Homo sapiens: one gene and its partners. The protein of the gene in region 3 interacts with the protein of the main gene of each other region in a pairwise test. Each region holds a gene or a part of one and is shown on either strand. Other genes may lie near its edges.

Region 1 (7,000 bases), on a different chromosome or scaffold from region 3:
TGTGATGTCATCTGCTGTTGGCTTTACATGGCTAAACAGATGCAGAAAGATACCCTCTGAGGGTTCCCCAAACTAACAGCAATTTAAAAACAGAATATAAAGTGTGCTCAGTGGATTTTTACAAATGGTATTCTGCACTTAATGCTGACCAAAAAAAGAGGACTGATTCATAATGTGAGAGTGTCAAGAGTTCTTCAGAGAAAGTGAATAGAAATAAGGGAAAGGAAAGCTGTGCAGTCTCAAATGTGCTAAACTTAAAAAAAAATTTCAAAAAGTTTACAAAAAGCATAAGAGAAAAAATTAGTATATTCTGATAGCTATAGCTTCTGAAAGGAACTCCACTTGAAAATGTAATAGTTAGCAATATCTGAATAAATTTGTGGTTTTCTAGGAAGCTCAAGTTTTAAGAAGCCACTAACAAAAAAAGAAAAAGAAGCAGATGAACTAAGTAGGGAATACACAGAAGTGGAATAAACACAGCCCACGTGTGCCCTCTTCATTCTTCCACTGCTCTCTGTCTGATCAGATCTTTCCAGGACCAGTTCAACTCTCCTCCACAAAACCTTCCTTCTCCAATCCTGATTATACTGACCTCTCCCCCTTCCCAACTCTGTGTATTTGGCAATTACTTTCTTGCCTCCCCAGTTCAACTTTCAGTTATGAGACTGCAAGGCCTATGTCACACACATCTTGGGGTCCCCAGGGTGCCTATAAATAGTGCCTCCTAAAGAGCAGATGATAAACATGTGCCAATGGAATCAAAGAAGCCAACCAGTGTTTTTAGAAGGAGGCTAAAGCAGATATAAAAAAACATAGATTTTGAGTATGCACTGTAAATTATACTAATACCCAATCCAATTCAAATCAATTATGTAACCAGTAGAATGAAGAGGCACAGTCACCTGAAATTGCAAAAATAGCACAGTACCTGCAGGAGACTTTCTATAGCATGAAAGCCTCGAATTAAATTCAGAGCTCCACATAAAAGACTAAGGATAAATCCTACAATCCCTGACAGAGTTGCTGGTTCCAGTCGCTGGTGAGCTGGAAAATAAAAGAAATAGTTAGAAATGAACACCAATACCTCACAAAGATGAACTTAGGTAAAACAGAAATTCACTGCTCAACTTAAATGGGTCAAGCAGATACTTCATAGAATTATTTAACACCATATATTCACAATTAAATACTGTTATAAAATGAAAAATGCTTGACAACATAAAAGCTTCATTTCCCTGAAAAATTAACTTATTTTTCTCTTTTTCCTTTTTTTTTGAGACAGGGTCACAATCACAGCTCGCTACAAGCCTCAAACTCAAGGGCTCAAGCGACCCTCGTGCCTCAGATTCCCGACTATCTACGATTACAGGCACGTGCCACCATGCCTGGCTAATTTTTTCTTGAATTGTTTATAGAGACAGAGTCTCACTATGTTGCCCAAGCTGGTCTTGAACTCCCGGCCTCAAGTGATCCTCTGACCTTGGCCTCCCAAAGTGCTGGTATTACAGGCATGAGACATTGCATCTGGCCTTTCTCTATGTTTTTAACAAAGACATGTAACTTGCATTTGGGATAGACAGTGCTAAGGGATGCTCACAACCGGCAGTAAATCATTTAGAAAAAACCTTACTGCATAAATATGTCTACTATTTGCAGGTAGGTGAAAGTATTTGTAAAGGTGACTTTGCTTGGAAATTCATTGCATAATCCTACTTTTTCTGAAAATGCTTAGGAAACATTTTAAAGTACAAACATAGCTTACTTTTAAGCAAAACTTTGCCTTATCTGGGTTCTAGGGCTATAAATATCACTGGATACATGTGAAAGCTCATATATAATCAGCAATCTGAACTCCAAAACAGAATGGAGTCTTATAGCTATGAAGTTCCTGGTCCTCTGAATAACACTGGAAGGTAAAAATGACAAAACACCAGCTGAATAAGTGACCATTTTAGTTTCATAAATACATTCCCTTATCTTCCAGGGCTGCAGCAGCACAAAAGTTATACAATAGCTTCCCTTCATCATCATCTTACGCTTAATAGAATTAACAACAGGGTCTACATGAAAACACATAACTAAATACATAATCATCTAGACCTCAAACAGGAGACAGAGGGAAAGACAACAGAACCACATTTAGAGTATTTTATTTAAATCACTGAAGTGTAAACGCCCTAACAATTAAGTTAATGAGGTGGAACATTAATATAAGGGCGGGTTTAAATCTCTGCAACTTATATTCAGCCATTATAGCAGAACATCTTCCCTAAACAGTTATAAAAACACAAGAATCTACATATCACAAAAAAGTATTTATTCCCCAAGTTCAGCAGAAAGTGCTTATATAACATTTTCTTAAACTTCTCTGGTGCCCAAGCTGCCTGCTCTCAATCAATTTCCTTGATATTGTAATATGACAACAGAAAATTAAATGTCACTATTCAATATTGCTTCCAAGTGTTATATCAGTAAAGAAAAAAAAATTCACGATTTAAAAATCTATCTAATTCGTCTATACATTTAAAGGCATAAAAGCCTTTAAAAAGCATAAGTCTCCTTTAACAAGAACACAGTACACCTTTGCTGAAGGACAGCTGGCGTTGTGCCAAATCACTGTGGGGAAGAAATTCTAGAGATTCCCCCACTTCCGCCCCCACCCACTTCCCAGGTTCTGTGGCTTGTTCCTTGAGAAGTTATCAAGAGAATACTCCATCTGCCCACAACATAAGAAGGTGACACTTCTTAATAATTTCTCATTTTAACAAACTGAACTAGATATTTAATCACATTTTAATGTATTAACTATTTGTTATTTTTTTTACTTCAGTAAAACAGATTTTAGATCCACTATTATCCAAAAATGCTTAATTTGGCACCATTCTAGGTACTATAATATTTGGTGTAGAATGTTTGTAACAATAACAAATAAGAGGCAGTGTAGAAAAACAATAATTTTGCTGAATCCAAAGCAGTGTCATCTGGTCAGTTTTTGTTTTGCTTTTGTTATTATTGCCTTCTCCTATAAAGTCTTTTCTTTAGTCTTCTTGAACCCAAGGATGGCATGTTGATAACAAAATTAAATGTTTCTGAAAATGTACCAATGGTTTATGGAGACTCTGCAAAAGTTCCTAAAGAAGTAAGAATAAACCCCTTAGAACCAAAGGAACCAAAGAGCTATTGGTTACAGTAAATTAATATATTTATTCAGTAAATACTTTCTGGCATGGTTCTGTGTAAGATGCTATGCTTTCGAAGATACAAAAATTGAATTACATATTCTGCCCTCAAGGCACTTCTAGTCTTTTATAAAAGAGATAAAACAGATAAGTATATGAAAGTAATAAGCATTCTAAGCTAAAAGAGGCAAGGAATGATGAAGTGGAAAGATAAAGTAGGGGGAGGGTGGTCTAGAACCAGGAAAGAGCTTTGAAGATAGATAAAATGTAGTCAGGTACAAAGGGGAAGAAATGCATTCCACGCAGAGAAAAGAATGTGAATGTGATGGAGATGGAAATGGGAGAAACGAGTAACAACAGCATCAACAACTACTACTTCTACCAACAGTGACTGCTCTCAACACGCCAGGCACCAAGTGCTTTATATACTTGGTCTCACTGTATCCTTCCAACAACCCAATGCAGTAGGCACTATAATTATCCTGGTTTTCTGCCCCACCCCGCCCCCTCCCCACCCCTCCCAGAATAGGAAAGGTTTAGGGACATTAAATAATTTGCTCATGGGCACAAAGTAAGTACGTGAACTGGGATTTAGATGATTCTGGAATTCATGTTCTCAGCCATTCTGCTATAGGGCATTGCTAGTGGTTTGGTTTGGCTCAAAGCGATGTTTGTGACAAGTGGGGAGAAATAAGGTCAGAAAGGGAGGTGGACACAAATTGATAGTATACAATTCTAGGCTAAGAATTATGGAAAATTAGACAATGGGGAACCACTGAAGAACAAGATTCTCATATGATGAAGGTTATACTTAAAGAAGATTAATCTATTAATGGGTTGTAAAGAGATCAAAAGTAAGGGAGGGAGAAATAATATTTTTCTGAGTACCTTCTCACTAAGCACCCATTGTCTCATTTACCCTTCAGAATGGCATACTTCATGAGGTAGAAATGACTAACTTCTCTGTGACTGAACTGGAATGACTAACTTTTCTGTGCCTAAACTTTCTCATCTGTCAATTAAGATTAAATTATTTTCTATAAGTCAGACAGCCAGAAGGGCCATCTTCACAATTAGCACTTAGGTCTATCTGACTGCAGAGCCCATGCTCTTTCTACAGTTCTACATTAGGAAGTTTGTGGGAGAGTCACTGCAAAAGACTGACTGAAATCAGGGCCTGAATCAGAATAGTCACAGTAGAAATGGGAATCTGAGTGCTTGGGAGTTCATTAAAGAATAAAGCTAAAATTAAAAAAAAAAAAGAAATGGGGAAAAAGAAGTAAGATGTCATGGAGGTTAAAATTATTAGACTTGGCAACTAATTAGATGTGGCAAACAAAAGGGGGAAAAAAATTCAAAGAAATGTTGAGGTTTTACCTCTAGGTGATCGGAAAGATGAGAGTACTGAGCAACAGATCCACAGGAAGAAACTTAAGTTTGATAAAAAATGGGGACATTTTAACATCATATTTGAGGTGATGGTGGGCCGTGTTTAACAAGCAACTGAAGAATGGAATAGCTGGGAGAAGCAGACGAGGTCTGCAACTGAAGGGAAAGGTTTAAATGAGCGTCAAAGAAAGAAGCAGGCCAAGGGAAATCCTTGGTAAACACTGTCAGTAAGGGATGGAAGAAGAGTCAGGGAAGGCAGATGCAGGAGAATCAAGTGAAACCTAGGAAGGAGAGACCATCAAGAAGAAAGATATGGCTAACAGTGCCTATAGATAGGCCAAAAAAAATCTGACCTTAAAGTAAAAAGTATTAGACTTATTGAACAGGAGATGCTAGGATTCTCCTTAAAATTTTTTTTTTTTTTTCCAGAAAAGTGGTTGAGGGCTTTTTAGATCTCACAAATAAGTGAGAACATGCAATGTTTGTCTTTCTGTGCCTGGCTTATTTTACTTAATGATCTCCAGTTCCCTCCATGCTGTTGCGAATGACTGGATCTCATCTTTTTCATGGATGAACAGTACTCCATTGTGTATATGAACCACATTTTCCTTATCAAATTCAGATTGCAAGAGGTTGAACAACTGGCGATGTTAAGAGGTGGAAGCATTAAGTGAATACTACTGAAGTTAAAGGAGAGAAAAACAGGATGAAAGCTTAACAGAGATAATAGGATTGAGAAAATAATTCTTTTTTCTCTTACAGTGTTGGAGGGAGGGAGGAAGACTTGAATACATACATAGGTGGAATGAAATAATTCAGTGAAGATGAAATAGAAGAATCAAGAAAAAGGAAAAATAATTGATGAAGCAAAGTCCCAGAATAGTCCTTATGACGATTCAAAGAGATGGTACCATTCGAAATCTCAAAGATGCCCACAATGCCTAGGGAAACAGACTGTGGAAGATAAGAGAGAAATTTCAAGTCAGTTCCATCTAAATGAGCCTAATTTATTACTGAAGTGTGACTGAATGAGACTAACAGTCTGGCACAAAAACACACTATTCTTTTCATCAGTGAGGCCCTTCTTTATCATCACCACCTGTAAAAATCATGCATATCCTTCAAGGCTCCAAGACCTGAGTCTTCCTTCTTACCTCTTTTGGAGCATGTATCACATTCTACTTTGTGTTTTACTTATTGGATTGTATTTCCCTTTCTCATTCTGAGTACAGTTAATGTGTTTACTGTATTTCTAAAAAATGCCTCCACAAAATTTAGCATAATACTTTAGAGAAAAAAAATGATAAATACCTGTTGGATTATGAAGGGGATGTGTGTGTGTGTGTGTGTGTGTGTGTGTGTGTGTGTGTGTAAGAAAGAGAGATTAGTAAATCTATTTGGCTTGTGGGCACCAGCCAAAACAGAGCAGCATTTTCAGGCAACTGACAAATTTTCTAGAAAATGATAAAATAGATGAAAAATATACAAGTGTCAAAGAAACTGACAGAAGTGTTTCTATCAGTTTAAACCCTAAATTTAGGGTTTTGTGAAGTTTTTTTTTTAAAGCACAACATAAAAGTAAAAAGACTAACAACACTAAATGTCGGTGAAGATGTTGAGTAATCAAAATGCTCACAAATTGCTTGTTGGGAAAGTAAAATCTTACAACTACTTCAGAAAACTGGCAGTTTCTTAAACAGGCAACCTTTTGACCTATCAATTCCACTCCTAATATTTACTCAAGGGAAATGAAAATATATGTCAACAAAAGGATGAATGTTCATCGTAGCTTTATGTGCAATAACAAAAACTGAAACAAGTTTACGTCCATCAGCAAGAGAATAAATAAACAAATTGTGGTACATTCATACAATGGAATACCGCTCAGGAATAAAAAGGAACAAATTACTGAGACAGGCAACATGTATGTATGACATCATGCTGTGCAAAAGAAGCTGAACACAATAGTCACACAATGTAGTCTTCTTTTATATAAAGTTCTGGAACAAAACAAAGTTCAAGTGGAAAAAAATAAAAACAGTCGTTGTCTAGAGGATGGTGGAAATTGACTGAAAAGGGACACAAAGAAACTTTTCGGGGGAGATGGAAATGTCCTATATTGTGATAAGGGTGTTTAGTAATCATGTCTTTTTATTCTGTATTTTTGATGCTTTGACCTCTTGGGCCTTGCTGACCATGGAAGAACTGCCTCTCCCAGGGATAGCTAATTCCTAGTGATGGCAAACAACTTGTCTGAGTCCACCTTTCATACGCATTCCAATCAATCCAGACTCACACTACCAACCAACTCCTCTACAAGGCTCTCACAGCCAGGGCCATTATTTCCCTATCCCAATCATCCCAGGGCCACATGTCAGACAACCAGAGATAGAACCTATGCCCCAGAGTCCATTGAAATTATTCAAACTAGC
Region 2 (7,632 bases), on a different chromosome or scaffold from region 3:
ACAATCCCACTGCCCACCTGAACCCCATCAACCCCCTCCAACCCTGCTCTGTCCCTGCAGTGAGAAGGACGTTGAAGAGTGGGCTCGGAGATGACCTGGTGCAGGCACTGGGACTAAGCAAGGGTCCTGGCCTGGAGGTGTGAAGGTGCTGTATCCCGGAAATCTATCTGGACCCTGGACTGCAGTGCAGGAGATGACAGAGTGAGGAGGGCCCAGAGCAGAATTCTGGCCCCAGAACTCTGTGCCCAGGAGCCATGCCTTGAGCAGTATTAGCCGTGTGTGTATGCATGTGAGTGTGTGTGTATGTGTGTGTGTGCATGCATATGCATGTGCATGTGTGTGAGCTCCTTGAACGCACGGAGCAAAATAAAATTTTCTTAGCTAATCCAACAGGTTTCTCTTCTTTCAGGGTCCCCACCAGGCTGGGTTTGTAGCAGGAGGGAAATCCCATAGGACCAGCTTTTCCTGCCTCATCCCTCATCACCCACACAGCCATCAGCCACATTCTAAGCCATTTATTCAACGACCCTATAGAGTATAAGTATACCCAATACCTCAGACTGCTTTTGGCCCCTGGACTAGACCCTCATTGCTCCAGGCATGAGGGGCTGTGCACCCTGACAGAGCCACCCAGGGCCAGTGGCCTGTGGCCACAATGTCAATGGCTATAACCGCTTCATCTGCCGCCGCTCCTGTCGGCGCTGCCGTTTCTCATTGTGCTCTGGTGCTGGGGTGCCACTGTCTGCAGTGAACCAGGGGCCCAGCACATTCACCCACAGGAGGTAAAGGGCCCGGCCTGGAGCCTACAAGAGAAACGGTAACTTGAAGCAAGATGCAGGGAATAAAAGATGGGGAGGGTTAGATGCCCCTTCTTGGGAGCGCCCCCAGCCCACATACCAGAAGCCAGAAGGACCAGACATAGAGAGAGAAGCAGCTGAGCACCTGCACGATGGCTGTCAGTAGGATCACATCCTTAAGGTGCCTGTGGATAGAAATAAAGCTGGAAAGACAGCATATGGGCCCTTCCACCCTTTTCAAGTTGCAACTCCCTTCCACCCTTTTCAAGTTACAAGTAGCTGTGCTTCTTGGGCTATCTGGGCCCCAGCCCTGGGGCCGCTCACCTGGGCTGGCGGTGGGGGACACTCACTCTGCCATGCCCTGCTCCATGTTGAGGTCCATGCCACCATCCATCAGGGCCCCATCCTCAGAGAACGCTGCTCGTGCCATCGAGCTCATAGAGTGGTAGCTGGCCCCATACACTGCCAGACTAAAGCCCAGGGCCAACTGCAGAGCAAGAATGAGGGTATCAAAGGCCAGCCACTGACCCTACGCACTCATCCACCTCCCAGGATGGAGATACTTACCCAGGCCCAAAATGAGGCAGATGAGTAAAAGAAGACCAACGTCACAAGGCAGTAAATGGCCTGCAAGCAATCACAGGATCAGGTTGGGGTCAGAAGTTACCTCCAAACCATGGGTCTCCCTCAACTCTGACCAAGAATTAGGCCAGGCTGTGGGAGGAGCAAGGTTGTTCTTACAGGGTTGAAGAAAGGGCCCTGCTCCCTGAATCCCAAATACCCACTCTCCTCTGACACCCAACTCAGCCCAGGAAAGAAGCCTTTGTGTACTTGGAGGTAGGAAGAGCTCTCAAATTCAGCTACGACTCACGCCTTCATTTTCTTTGTGTTTTACTAGTTAGCACTTTCTCTGTGCCCAGATCTCTCATTTCTTTTTGACTGGAGCTCTCTTCTAGAGCTTTTTCGGGTACCACTCCTCGTCACCAAGCAGGGCTGAGGACTAGGGAACTGACTATAAGTGGGCATAGAAGCAAGGAGGTAGGCACTTACATTGGCCCCCAGTATGATCCGCAGGTAGAACTTCAGAGTCTCTCTGTTCTCTTCAAATATCTGCTTCTTCCCTCTCGTGCCCACTTTGCCCTTGGGCTGCAGAGGAATGATGAGATGCCGTCAGGAGGCCACGGTCCTCCTCATTCTCCCCACCAGCCTGGTGAGCTATAGAGCTCCATCCGCAACTCAGCCAGGTCCCCGTAGTGCAGAAACCTAGCAAAATCCCTGGGATGTCCACCCATCCTCCAGTCCATTCTGCCTAGGGCTGACGCCATCTCTCCAGCACCCGCAGCTAGGATCAATCGCCTCTTGCTCGCCCTGGAACAATTCAATCCTAAGCTAATACCGCCTCTGGATCCCGTGGTAGTCTGGCTTTAGGCTAACGACTCTTCCAAGGGTACTCCTGAGCGGAGTTGAATGGTGCCTCTCTCAGGCCTCCGCTGGCGTAGTCCCGATCTGGGTTAACCCCCACCTCAGGTCACTTAGATCTCTGGCCTGCCCTGGTACTGATGCCCACCCCGCTCTGGCACTAGTCCTGGTATGGTCCTGCGCCGCCATCCCCCCAGCCCAGCTCTAGCACGGTCTGGCCAGGGATGGCGCCCCGCTCTGGCCCACCCCATATCCCTTAATGTTCTTTCTCAGTTTTCACTCTCACAGCCCCTGGAGAGCTTTGCTGGTGCGGACCCCGCCCTATCCATCCTCCTTACCGCCATGGTGCGAGGCAAATACCCAGCCCGGGAAACACGGGAGAGCGACCGAAACCGCAATCACTAAGCACCACATCGGCAGCTCATGCACTTCCGGCGCAGACCGAAGTCGTCAGCTTTTGCGACGGAAATAGGTCTCACTTCCTTCCCAAGCCCCGCCCCAAAGAGGCGAGACTACATTTCCCAGAAAGCCTTGCGCAGTGGGGGCGGAGGCGGCAGGGATGCGATGGCGGAGTCGCTGCCCCTGGAGGTGAGAGGAAGCCGCCCTCAGGCCTAGCTCTGGACAGGCCCCGCCCTCGCGGTCCTGAGCTTTGGGGAGGGGCTGTCAGATAGCTAGCCCGGCCCCTCCAGCCTGGCGGAAACGACCCGCCCTCCCGATCCCGGGACCTTCTAGCTCTGGGTAACGGTTCCTCCTTTGGGCCACTCTGTCCCTTTAGCTTGGGGGACCGTCCTCCCCTTCCCTATCGGCCCCAGAAGATAGCTGCCCTGTCATCTCCGCGAGAACAGGCCCTCTGCCCATCCCCTTCCCTTGAAGTGGCTGTCTCCTCCCCGCTCAGTTCTGGAAGATGTCCGCTCCATCTCATCGTCCCGAAGGGTAACTGATCTTATCCCCATTGGTCCCTTGGGATGATCTCTCCATTTCCTACAGAGACGGCCGCCCCTTCTCCCTGGCAGTGGGAAACAGACTGCTCCCTCCCCATCAACTGCAATGATCTCTGAGTTCCTTTAACAAGGATAGGCCTGTTCCCCATTCCTAGGCCCCTAGTGATGGCCGCCCTTACCTCTTTCACTCCGTGGGATGTTTGCTCCTTCCCCTTAGCCAGGGGCAAGACCACTCTGCCCCATCTGCCAGGGAGATAACAGGTTTTGTCTTCAGTGGCCTGTTGGAATGGCTTCTCCATCTCTTTTGTCCTGAGGGTTGGCAGCCCCCTCTCTCTGCCCATGGGAAACAGGCCACCCTTTCCCATCGGTCCTGGAATGATGCTCCTGTCCTTAGCAAAAATAGGCCTGTTCCCACCCCTATTGAGCTTGCAGTGCTATCCCTTTCCCCCTTAGCTTTAGGGGCTATCTATTTCCATCCCCATAGACCCCATGAGTGACCAATCATTATCTCCAGTAGCCCCCTTGAGATGGGACTCATGGGATGGTCACTCCATCCTCATCACTGCCTCCTCTTGTCCCTCTAGAAAGGCCACCCTCTTCTTAGGTCAATGAATTGTGTCCCTTCCCGACTCACCCCAAGGGATGACAGGTTTGTTCCCCTCTCCCTTTGCTCTTGGGCTGGCTGCTTAGCCCCAGAAGACAGGATGGCCACTGTCTTAACTCAGCTCAAACAGGCTTCCGTGCCTCCCTGGAGGGATTGGGACTTGGTCAGTCCCAGTCCCCATCAATACTGTCTTCCCTATGCCTCCCTTCCTGGCCCAGAAGTCTATTCTGCCAGTCATTGTCCTCTCAGTAATGACTGCTTTATTTCCCCGACCCCTTCCCTGAGCATACTCTTGGTGAAAATAGAGGTAGAGGACTGGACTGTCCAACCTTAATTTAATCCAGTAAGCACTGGCTGAGCACTGTGCCTGCGTGCTTGGCATCTGAGAAAGGAAGGAGAGATCACAATGGGTTGGTGAAGTTAAGCTTCAAGAAGGGGATCCCAGGGAAAAGGCCCGCATAGGCAAAAGGAAATAGACATGCTGTGTGCGTAGGGCAATGGGGAGACTGGACTGGGGAAGTTTGGGGACCAGCGAGTCCAATCAGGCACAGAGGCCTGGCAGTGCTGATCCAGGAGTGGAGACTGTCCTGAGAGTACTGTGAACCCTGAAGTTTTACAGCAGGGGTGAGCTGAAACTGAAAACTGTTTTATAGGAAAAATTAACCTTGTGACAGTGTGCATAATGTATTAGCAAGGATGAACTTGGAGGCAAAGAGTTCAGGTGGGAGATTGTGGAAGGAATCCAGGTTTGGGGTGGTAGAAATCTGAGCTACTGAGGTGGGGAAGTTGCAGAGGTAGAAATTTTAGTAACAGCAATCCAGCAACCATTTATGGAACATCTAGTTGTCACACACACACTATATATATGTAAAATTTAATCCCCATGAGGCTATGATCTAGATTTTTTTAAAGTATCCCTATTTTATAGATATGGAAACTGAAACTCCCAGAGGTCAAGTACCTTGTTTAAGGTCACACATCAGTATATGTGGAAGTAGTGGAGCTGGAATTTGAATGAGTTTAGGTTAGCCTGGCCTAAAGCCTGTGCATTACACCTGTATCTGGGAGGAAGGGACAGAATGGTTTGAATAGTTGAAAGTGTTATCAGGTAGATGCACTGTTGGCATTGAAAGGGGAATTTGGGAGGAGAGGCTGTTTTGGGCTGAGGGTAGAACATGAGTTTTGGTTGAGATTAAAGTGATGGCTAAACATTTGCATGGACAGTTGGCAATATGGACTAGCACTTGGATAATAGGACAATATGGGAATATTGAATTGTTGGTTATTCCTGTGTTGGTAAACAGAAAACCAAAAGACCCAGGTCTGAGCCCTGGGAGCCACAGAAGAATCCAAAAACGAGACAATTGGGATGCAGGGAGGAAGATTCCAGAAGAAAAGAAGAGTTAATATCAAATCATTCTAGGCCTCACTGGTAACCCCTTCCCCAGTCCCATTTAGGACCTCTAACCTCACCACCCCCTAGGTGGGGGGAAGGGCCTGAGCCTCCCAGGCTAGGTCTTGCTGGGAGCGCATCTTAACAACCAGTGGAGAGGGCAAGGTGGCAGTGAAGAAGACAGAAAAACAGCAGGGTCCCAGAGCCTGAGCCATGAGGGCAGGAGGACCAAGCATGACTTCCTGAGGACCAGAGTGAGCACACCTGGCCTGCTGTGCTCTAGGTCCTATGCAAGACACTTGGCTGTGTTCTTTAATTCTCACAATAATCCATTTAAATCTCACTACAATTGCAATTTCACAGATAAGGAAAACAAAGTTCGAGAGGTCAGTTGGCAGAGTAGAGATTTGAACTAGGTTTATCTGGCCTCAATGCCCAGGCTTTTTCTACCCAGCTAGGCAGGAAGTTTGATTCTTATCAGTCAGTGCAAGCCTGCACCCAGCTCAGGAAAGGTTTGTTTACAGGAAAGATACCTGAAGCCTGGAGCGGGGAAGTGAATGCTTCGTGAAGCTTCACATCCAAGATAAAGTAGAAGCCAGGGCTCTGGTGCCCTCAGACCCATGGTGCTGTCAGCTGGAGTGGGTTCCAAAGACCTCCCACCTCTAACAGTCCCCAATGCCCTGTCTTTTTCCCTCAGATGCTCACATATATTCTGAGCTTCCTGCCTCTGTCAGATCAGAAAGAGGCCTCCCTCGTGAGTTGGGCTTGGTACCGTGCTGCCCAGAATGCCCTTCGGGAGGTAAGGCACCCACCCTCCCCCGTCCCATCCTCAGGTGTTTCTTACTTCAGCTTACTCGTGGCCCTGCTCATGTATCTCCATCCATCTATCCATCCATCCATCCATCCATTCATATGCTCATACATACACATATATACATACATTCATACATACTTGGCTCTGGGTACAGTGCTGGGGCTATACAGATAAATAAGACATAGTTCCCTAAGGAGCTCACATTCCAGTGAAGGAGAAAGACGAGTAATATGAATGATCATGCTATCGTGTGCTCAGCGCTGTGACACTGGGAAGAAAGAGTTCGACGGGGACAGCCGGGCGCAGTGGCTCACGCCTGTAATCCCAGCACTTTGGGAGGCCAAGGCGGGTAGATCACCTGAGGTCAGGAGCTCGAGACCAGCCTGACCAATATGGTGAAACCCTGTCTCTACTAAAATTACAAAAATTAGCTGGGTGTGGTGGCGTGGTGTGCACCTGTAGTTCCAGCTACTTGGAGGCTGAGGCAGGAGAATCGCTTGAACCCGGGAGGCAGAGATGGCAGTGAGCCGAGATCGCGCCACTGCACCCCAGCCTGGGCAACAGAGCGAGACTCTGTCTCAAAAAAAAAGAGTTTGACGGAACATGAAGAAGGACATCCAGAGGAGACTGGTGGTGTCAGGGAAGGCTTCCTGAAGGAACAGGATGAGAAGAAAGGTTGGGCTTCTGGGATCAGTAATAGCATAAGTGAAGGCACCATGGTGTGGAACCAATCACACAAGTTCCATTTGGCTGGAACTAAGTGAGACATGGCAGGAGGCGAGGCTAGAATGGCATCAGGCTGCAAGCTGGCAGATGTGCCAGGCAGCAGAGTTTGGCTTTCTCCTGGTGACCATCAAGGAGCCCATTAGGCAGGCAAGTGACACAGCGTGATTTGTATTAGAACTCTGCAGTGCAGAGTGGACTGGGAGAGTGAGACAGCATAGGGAGGAGGCCAGCCAGGAGGTGAATGCAGACATCTGGGCTAGTTTGAAAGGCAGGCAGTGATGGCTCATTGTTTTAATTTTGATTTGTTTATTAGTGAGGTTGCACTGTTTTTCTCATTAGTTCACCCTTCATATTTCCCCCTTTTGTTTATTCATGTTCTGTATCCATTTAACTATTAAGGTCTTAGTATTTTTCTATTCCATTTGTATGGACTTTTTCTTTTTCTTTTTTTTTTTTTTTTTTTTTTTGAGATAAGAGTCTTGCTCTGTCGCCCAGGCTAGAGTGCAGTGGCGCTATCTCGGCTCACTGCAAGCTCTGCCTCCTGGGTTCAAGCAGTTCTCCTGCCTCAGCCTCCCAAGTAGCTGGGATTACAGACACACGCCACCATGCCCAGCTAATTTTTTTTTTTTTTTTTTAGATGGAGTCTTGCTCTGTCACCCAGGCTGGAGTGCAATGGCGCAATCTCGGCTCACTGCAACCTCCGCCTCAGCAATTCTCCTGCCTCAGCCTCTCAAGTAGCCAGAATTGCAGGTGTGTGCCACCACACTTGACTAATTTTTGTATTTTTAGTAGAGATGGGGTGTCGCCATGTTGGCCAGGCTGGTCTCGAACTCCTGACCTCAAGTGATCTGCACCCACTTGGCCTCCCAAAGTGCTGGGATTACAGGCGTGAGCCACTGTGCCGCGCTTCTTTTTTTATTTCTATTTATTTATTTTTT
Region 3 (7,146 bases):
TGTACCAAAATATCTCATGTGCCCCATAAATATCTAACCTACTATGTACCCACAAAAATTAAAAATTGTCCAGGTGTGGTGACTTATGCCTGTAATCTTAGCACTTTGGGAGCCAAGGAGGGAGGATCGCTTGAGCTCAGGAGTTCAAGACCAGCCTGGGCAACATGGCAAAAAAAACATCTTTACAAAAAATACAAAAAATTAGCCAGACATGGTGGTATGTCCCTGTAGTCCTAGCTACTCAGGGGTTTGAGGTGAGAGGATCACTTGAGTCCGGGAGGTTGAGGCTGCAGTGAACTGTGTTTGTGCCACTACACTCCAGCCTGGGCAACAGAGTGAGACCCTGTCTCAAAAAAAAATTTAAAAACCAAAACAATAAAAACAGCAGTGGCAACTATTGTTTATAGAGGGTTTATGGTGTACCAGGCCCTCTGCAAGAATTTCTAATGGAATTCTCTTAAGAACCCTATGTTTTACCATGAACCCTACTTTTGGATGAGGAAAATAAGCTTGGAGAGGTTAAAGCACCTGCCCAAGCTCACACAGGTGACAAGTGGGAGGCCCCAGGTCTAAGCAGTGCTGAAGACGTCCCGCCTCAGGCAAGGATCACTTCCCCAGCACTTGCCTCATCATCTGCCATCTGACCTGTGGACCCACTGTCTGCACACGTTGAGCCTGGGAGTACGCACCTGGGAAGTCTTGGGACTTTCCTGTTTAAAATCTCCCCAGAGTGGGGTGGATTCAGGGTCTACAGCTCACCTCTGTCCCAAACTCATGCAGCTTTGAGAGACCAAGATATTCAGAACCGAGTGTGTTTTCTTTTCTTTTTCTTTCTTCTTTCTTTCTTTTTCTTTTTTCTTTTTGTTTGTCTGTTTGTTTTTTGAGACAGAGTCTTGTTCTGTTGCCCAGGCTGGAGTGCAGTGGTTCAATCTCGGCTCACTGCAACCTCCGCCTCCTGGGTTCAAGCAGTTCTCCTGCCTCAGCCTCCTGAGTAGCTGGGATTACAGGCTCCCGCCACCACGCCTGGCTAATTTTTGTATTTTTAGTAGAGACGGGGTTTCACCATGTTGGCCAGGCTGGTCTCAAACTACTGACCCGCCTCAGCCTCCCAAAGTGCTGGGATTACAGGCATGAGCCACCATGCCCGGCCCTGAGTCTGATTCTTAAGCTGGGTAAGTTTCCATGTATTAATTTTATTATACTTTATAACTGATAGATATACAGTCTATATATTCTACCAGTGCACAAGATATCATAATAGAAAAGGCCATGATGATAAAGTGAAAGGGAGAGATGGCATTTATGCTAACATTCACGATTTGAGTAATCAAATGAGTGAACGAATGAAGCAATCTACTTTAAAAAAGAGGGCCATCAAAGCTGGAAGTGTAGAAGTGTCCTTTCTTTTACTATCTATCCACCCACCTATTCATTCCTCTATCGTCCCCACCCTACTCCATCCTGCCTTCCTTCCATCCATCCAATAAATAAACATTTCCTGAGCACTCAGTCATTATAGCTGTACCTAGGGAATAGCCGCAAATAATTGACTGACACACCCTGCTCTCAAGGAGCCCTCAGTTTAGTTCAGAAATGAGGAGGCCAAGGCCCAGAAAGGGAAAGTGATTTGCCCAGGGTCACACAGCAAGTGAGGGAAATGAGGTAAAGAAGGGTGAGGGTATTCCAGGTGGAGGGGAACCCATGGGCAAAGGCTCAGACCTGTCTGCCTCCAAAGCGAGCCCCTGTCAATCACTGCCTGAAACCCGCCTCCTGGCTCTCCATGAAGGCCTGAAGAGCCTGCCTCACTCCATCGCTACTTTCATTTTTGTTATTCTTTTGGAAGGGGAGGAGGAGCCAGTGGCTGCTGCTGTCCAGCTGTTATGTCGGACCGCACATCCCAGCCCAGATGTGTCAAACTCTCTGTGATGGGTGAAGTGGCTTCTGGGCCACGAGCCACGAGCCAACGGCCAAGGAAGCGGCAGTGAAGGCTCTGTCCCAGGGGAATTAGGGGAGGAGGCACACTGAACCCGGCGGCAGGGAAGCCCATGGTTGCTCCAGCTATCAAACTGGCCTTGTAGACAATATGGTGTGTCTAGGTGGTGGGGATCAAGATCTTTGACATTCCAAAGAAATCAATACCTTTGACATATTTCCTCTGAGGGTCAGAGTCCTGGGGCATTTCCTGCCTCTCCCAGCTTCTCCTGAACCAGACAATCCCACCCCCACACATTCCCCAATCCTGGTCCAGGGTCCTGCCATTCAGTCTGGCTTCCCCAGGGCTGCTCAAGAGGGTTACACAGAGTTCCAGCTCACAGTCTTGACTTAACTCCACCCAAATATTCCTCCTCCATCCTGCCCCCAGGAGTGCTGAGACTTCCAGAGAAACAGCCTGTTCTCCAGCATCTGGAGCTGGTTTCTTGAGGGAGGTTCAAGGGCAAGCCAGGTTCCAGAGAGAGATGCTCCAGGAGGGCCTCGGTACCAGGACTCGCACGAGGCACATGATACAGGGAGAAGACACAAAACAGGGATGTCCTTTATGCTCCCCTCTCCTGGTGCAGTAGCCAGGCCAGGCCAGGGCAGACAGAAACAGAGTCTCCTGAGGAGTCCTGGGAGCTGCAGAGAGCAAAGATCCAAGTCCCCAGAAGGGCTGGGGAACAGCATCCTGGGGGTGAATCTGATAGGGTGTGAAATGGGATGTGGGAGCTTATTCAGGGGATCTGGTTTTGCCCATAAAGCTCTAGGCATCCAAGGTGCCCTAAGGATGGGAGTGGGTGAGGATGAAGACAGGGACCCTGTGATATGAAAGATCCTGAATTTTCCTTGCTCTAGAGGGGAAATCTCAAACTAGAACAATGAGAGAACTTGCTTGTAGCTTCTTCTTGCTCCCCTCTTTGACTCTCCATAGGACTCCTGCCCTTGAGCAGAGTGCACAATGGATAATAATGCCTATACGTGTTCAGTAAAAGGAACATGGCCCCAGTCCCTGTGGAAATGCCTTTTTTTTTTTTTTTGGAGATGGAGTTTTGCCCTTGTTGCCCAGACTGGAGTGCAATGGTGCGATCTTGGCTCACTGCAATCTCCACCTCCTGGGTTCAAGCGATTCTCCTGGCTCAGCCTCCCAAGTAGCTGGGATTACAGGCACATGCCACCATGCCTGGCTAATTTTTTTGGTATTTTTAGTAGAGATGGGGTTTCACCATGTTGGTCAGGCTGGTCTCAAACTCCTGAACTCAGGTGATCCACCTGCCTCAGCCTCCCAAAGTGTTGGTATTATGGGCATGAGCTACCATGCCTGGCCAGAAAAGCCTTCTAATAACTCCTTTGCCACTAAGGAAGAGGGAAATTGGGGCAGCATGTGCAGAGATCACCTTCTGAGAAAGCTTTCATGACCTGTAGCCTGGCTCAGCCTCCTGCCATGCTCTGCTCCATCATGGCGCCCACCATGGTGTTGATACTGCCTATTTCCCTCTCTGTCTCTCTCATTCGTCCGCGATTGACTGGAGGGTCAAGTGTGTTTTCTTCATCTGGGTTACCCTGGCACCAGCATAGATGTTCCTTCAGTGCCCAGTTGCTGAAGGAATGGACATGTGTATTAATGAATGAGCAAGTGAATTCCCAGCTGGTCCAGGGAAGCCGGAGGGACCTCACAACATATCGGGGCACAGACAGCACTTCTGTGGGACCCAGCATCCCCACCACCCTAAGGGATGGCCAGTCCAGGATCCTGAAAACCCCAGGATCCCTTCAGGAATCATAAGTACACCTCTTGAACACTTAGATCTGATTTTTTGGGTCTTGCTCTGTTGCCCAGGCTGGAGTGCAGTGGCGTGATAATAGCTCACTGCAGCCTTGAACTCCTGGGCTCAAGTGATCATCCCACATCAGTCTCCTAAGCAGCCAGGACTTCAGGTATGTGCCACCATGCCTGGATAATTTATTTTTTATTTTTTGTAGAGACGGAGTCTTTCTGTGTTGCCCAGGCTGGTCTCAAACTCTTGGCCTCAAGTGATCCCCCTGCCTCCGCCTCCCAAAGTACTGGAATTACAGGTGTGAGCCACCACATCCAGCCTGGGATTTTTTTAAAACAATTTTTCCCTTCCCTTACAAGGATTGCCCCAGTCTAAAGTAATTTTCTCTACAAATATAGTAAGTCCTTGAAATAGAGCAAAGTTCACTACAATGTGACCCAAACTTGACTTCTGTTCTATGCTCAGGCCCCTTCTCAAATAAAAGTGAGCAAAACTCCATTCTCTATGGGGCTGGTAAAAAAAAGTGACTGCCTCATGCTCCTGTGGTACTCTTTCTGTTTGGTCTGCTTTGTGCAGTAAGGTGTCACAATTTTTACTTTCCTGCTTTTTGTGATAGTACAGACCATCTGAAAAATACTGTTTTTCGTTAATTCTACAAAAATATTACTCCACATTTTATGTAATTGGAAAATTTATTTTTAAATTTGTATTATTATTATTACTTTTAGAGACAGGGTCTGGCTTTGTTGCCCAGGCTGGAGTGCAGTGATGCCATTATGGCTCACTGCAGTCCCAACCTCCCCAGCCCAAGTGATCCTCCCTCCTCAGCCTCCTAAGTGGCTGGGACCACAGGCATATGCCACCATGCCCGGCTCATTTTTTTTTTATTTTTTGTAGAGACGAGGTCTCCCTATGTTGCCCAGACTGGTCTTGAACTCCTGGGCTCAAGCAATCCTCCTACCTTGGTCTCCCAAAGCATTGAGATTACAAGCATGAGTCACCGCAAAGGAACATAATTGGAAATTTTTGACTGGGCATATTTATTGCATTATTGTAGAATTTTACTACATTGAGCATCTATTTTGTCCCATGTGACTGTGCTAGGTTTATGTCAATGCACAAAACTGATATGGACTCTCCTCTTATGGAACTTACTTTCTCGTGGAGGAAATAGACAATAGGCCATTAAAATAATTGCAAACTGGGTTAAGGGCTAGAAGATATCAAAAGACTAAAACAGAAAAGAACAGGGGGGTCCCACTTTAGGTAGTCAGGGAGCGTTCCCTAAGGAGGCAATATTTGAGCTGGGATCAGAAGGCTGAGATGGACAGACTGGGGGAAAAGCAGTCCAGATGACAGGAACAGCATGTGCAAGGGCTCTGAGGCAGGGCTGGAAAAGGCTTAGTCTTAAATTGGGTGAGTATGGATCCAGGAGTCCTAGAGCAATCTGAAGAAGAAACTGGGGAAAACGGAAGCCCTAGAGACAGTGCTCAAGAGTGACACCTGAGCCACAAGTTCAAATCCCCTGTGGGTCAGCCAGCTGTAGACTATTCTAGACCAGGGGCTGCAGAGGCCTGTGCAGTAGGGGGATGGCTCAAGGTAATGAGAACTCATTAAAAACCATGGAGAGCCCTTCCTGGACCCCAGAGACAGTGCAGGGTCTGCAGGACCTCGATGGCTGCAAATAGATGGGCTTAAGGACACTTTTCCCTCTTCTCTAAGAATGTGGGGTCTGGTTTGGGCCCCTTTTTCTTCATCCATCCATCCATTCATTCATCCATCCATCGATTTATTCATTCATCAACGGTTGTTAGGCACTGGGATACAGCAGTGAACAAGACAGACCAAGCCCCTGACTCAAGGAACTGTTCCCTCAACACTGGGGGAAGCAAAACCCAAATCAAACCTCTGCTCAAAACGAACTTAATGTTTTGATAGAGTAGGTATCAGAGGTCTCCTTTCTGAATAGGCACCCTGAGATTTGGGCTCCTCCAGTAGGTTTTTCATTAGATCTTTTCTAGCAGATTGCACTCTGAGACCAGAGTGCCTTAGCACTTCTGTCCTCTTTCCTGTTGGTGAGAACTTAAACAGAAACACACACAAATCTCCCCTTTTAAGGACTGTTAAAGGCCCACCCACAGACATAGGAACACCCAAACACACATACTTCTCTAATCTCCCTAAATCTCCCGAAGGCTGGGGGTGGGGGTGCCTCTCTGCTTCCCAGTTAGCTCAGGAGAAGCCAGGCTAGGCGTGTGGGGAGTAGCGATCAGCCTTAGCCCCCACCGCCTCCCCGCAATGCTGGGCTGGTCCCTGGGTCCCCGTCACTCCCACACCTGGCCTCCCCAGCTGCAGGGAGTAAACGGGTGTGCTGGGCAAACATCCTTGCAGCTTCCTGCTGCTCCCCTCTGAGAAAACAGACCTTTTCTTCCTCCTCCTTCTCCTCCCCACACCCTCCCAGCTGGGGCTTCTCTGGGATCCCAAGCCAGTTCCCTCTAGAGAAGCCAGACATCCCTTCCCCTTAGCCAGAGGAAGGAGGGGACAGCACACAGACCTAGTGTTTCCATCTGGAGAAACGACCTGCTCTCCCTCTGGTCCTTTATCCCAGTTCTTGGAGCCCAGACCCTCTCTCTCATACTGGCCAAGGGGCTGAAGGACCACAGAGTACAGTGGCTCAAGGGTGGCCACATCAGAAACCATGGGAGAGCGGGAGGGGCAGGGAGGAGATGCCCCCACATGGGACAGGAAGGGCAGCCCCCTTCTGAGGATCTCTGAGAATCGCATAAACAGAATTGCAGCAACATGAAGGTATCCTCATAGAAAGAAAAATAAGGCAGCCCAGCCACCTCCAAACACACTTGTCTTGACTTTGTGTACTCACTCTCCTGTCTGTCCAAGTGCATGCGTATTTCTTGCATAGTTGTTTTCAGGGTGAGCATACATTTTGCATTTTGCACAGAGCAACAGAGCACACATGATTTCCACATGATTTATGGCCCGTATCTGGATTTTTAAGGAGGATAGCGAATATTCTGCTCTCCATTTTCCAGACTGAGAGGCACACAGACGCCATCCCTACCCATCCTTAACCCTGGAAACATTTTCCTATCCTCATGCAGAATGAAGAAGTTGGGGGAAGGGTTGGAATGGGATCTCAGCTGGAAAGAACCTCGGATATGGAGATGGAGACCCCAGAGAAGGAAAGTGACTTGCTATGTTCACACAGCAACTCGTAGCTGAGCAATTCTCACTATCACGCCCATCCAGTCTCTATGGATCAAGCCAACGATGAACGTTACATGCCAGGCATTGTGCTACATAACCTTCACTTTAATTTTCTCTCGAAATGCTTACAGTAATGCTATAGTTCTAATATTCCCATTTTTCAGATGAGGAA

The links. Proteins that work in one complex are often made in the same cells at the same time.
Region 1: the proteins of CREB3L1 (region 3) and SEC22A interact in binary tests that used the Homo sapiens proteins (3 or more experiments, as listed by UniProt).
Region 2: the proteins of CREB3L1 (region 3) and TMEM208 interact in binary tests that used the Homo sapiens proteins (3 or more experiments, as listed by UniProt).

What each region holds. Positions count from the first base shown.
Region 1 is NC_000003.12:123,239,943-123,246,942, reverse strand, and holds part of SEC22A (vesicle-trafficking protein SEC22a), read right to left. Parts: intron 1,045-7,000; coding exon 929-1,044; intron 1-928. UniProt on the Homo sapiens protein: May be involved in vesicle transport between the ER and the Golgi complex.
Region 2 is NC_000016.10:67,222,147-67,229,778, reverse strand, and holds TMEM208 (transmembrane protein 208), read right to left. Parts: upstream 2,650-7,632; 5' UTR 2,561-2,649; coding exon 2,555-2,560; intron 2,061-2,554; exon of another isoform or gene 1,944-2,060; coding exon 1,848-1,943; intron 1,425-1,847; coding exon 1,365-1,424; intron 1,285-1,364; coding exon 1,148-1,284; exon of another isoform or gene 1,122-1,147; intron 983-1,121; coding exon 898-982; intron 804-897; coding exon 666-803; 3' UTR 501-665; downstream 1-500. Other genes in the region: FHOD1 (FH1/FH2 domain-containing protein 1), read left to right, coding at 61-143. UniProt on the Homo sapiens protein: May function as a negative regulator of endoplasmic reticulum-stress induced autophagy.
Region 3 is NC_000011.10:46,280,521-46,287,666, reverse strand, and holds part of CREB3L1 (cyclic AMP-responsive element-binding protein 3-like protein 1), read right to left. Parts: intron 1-7,146.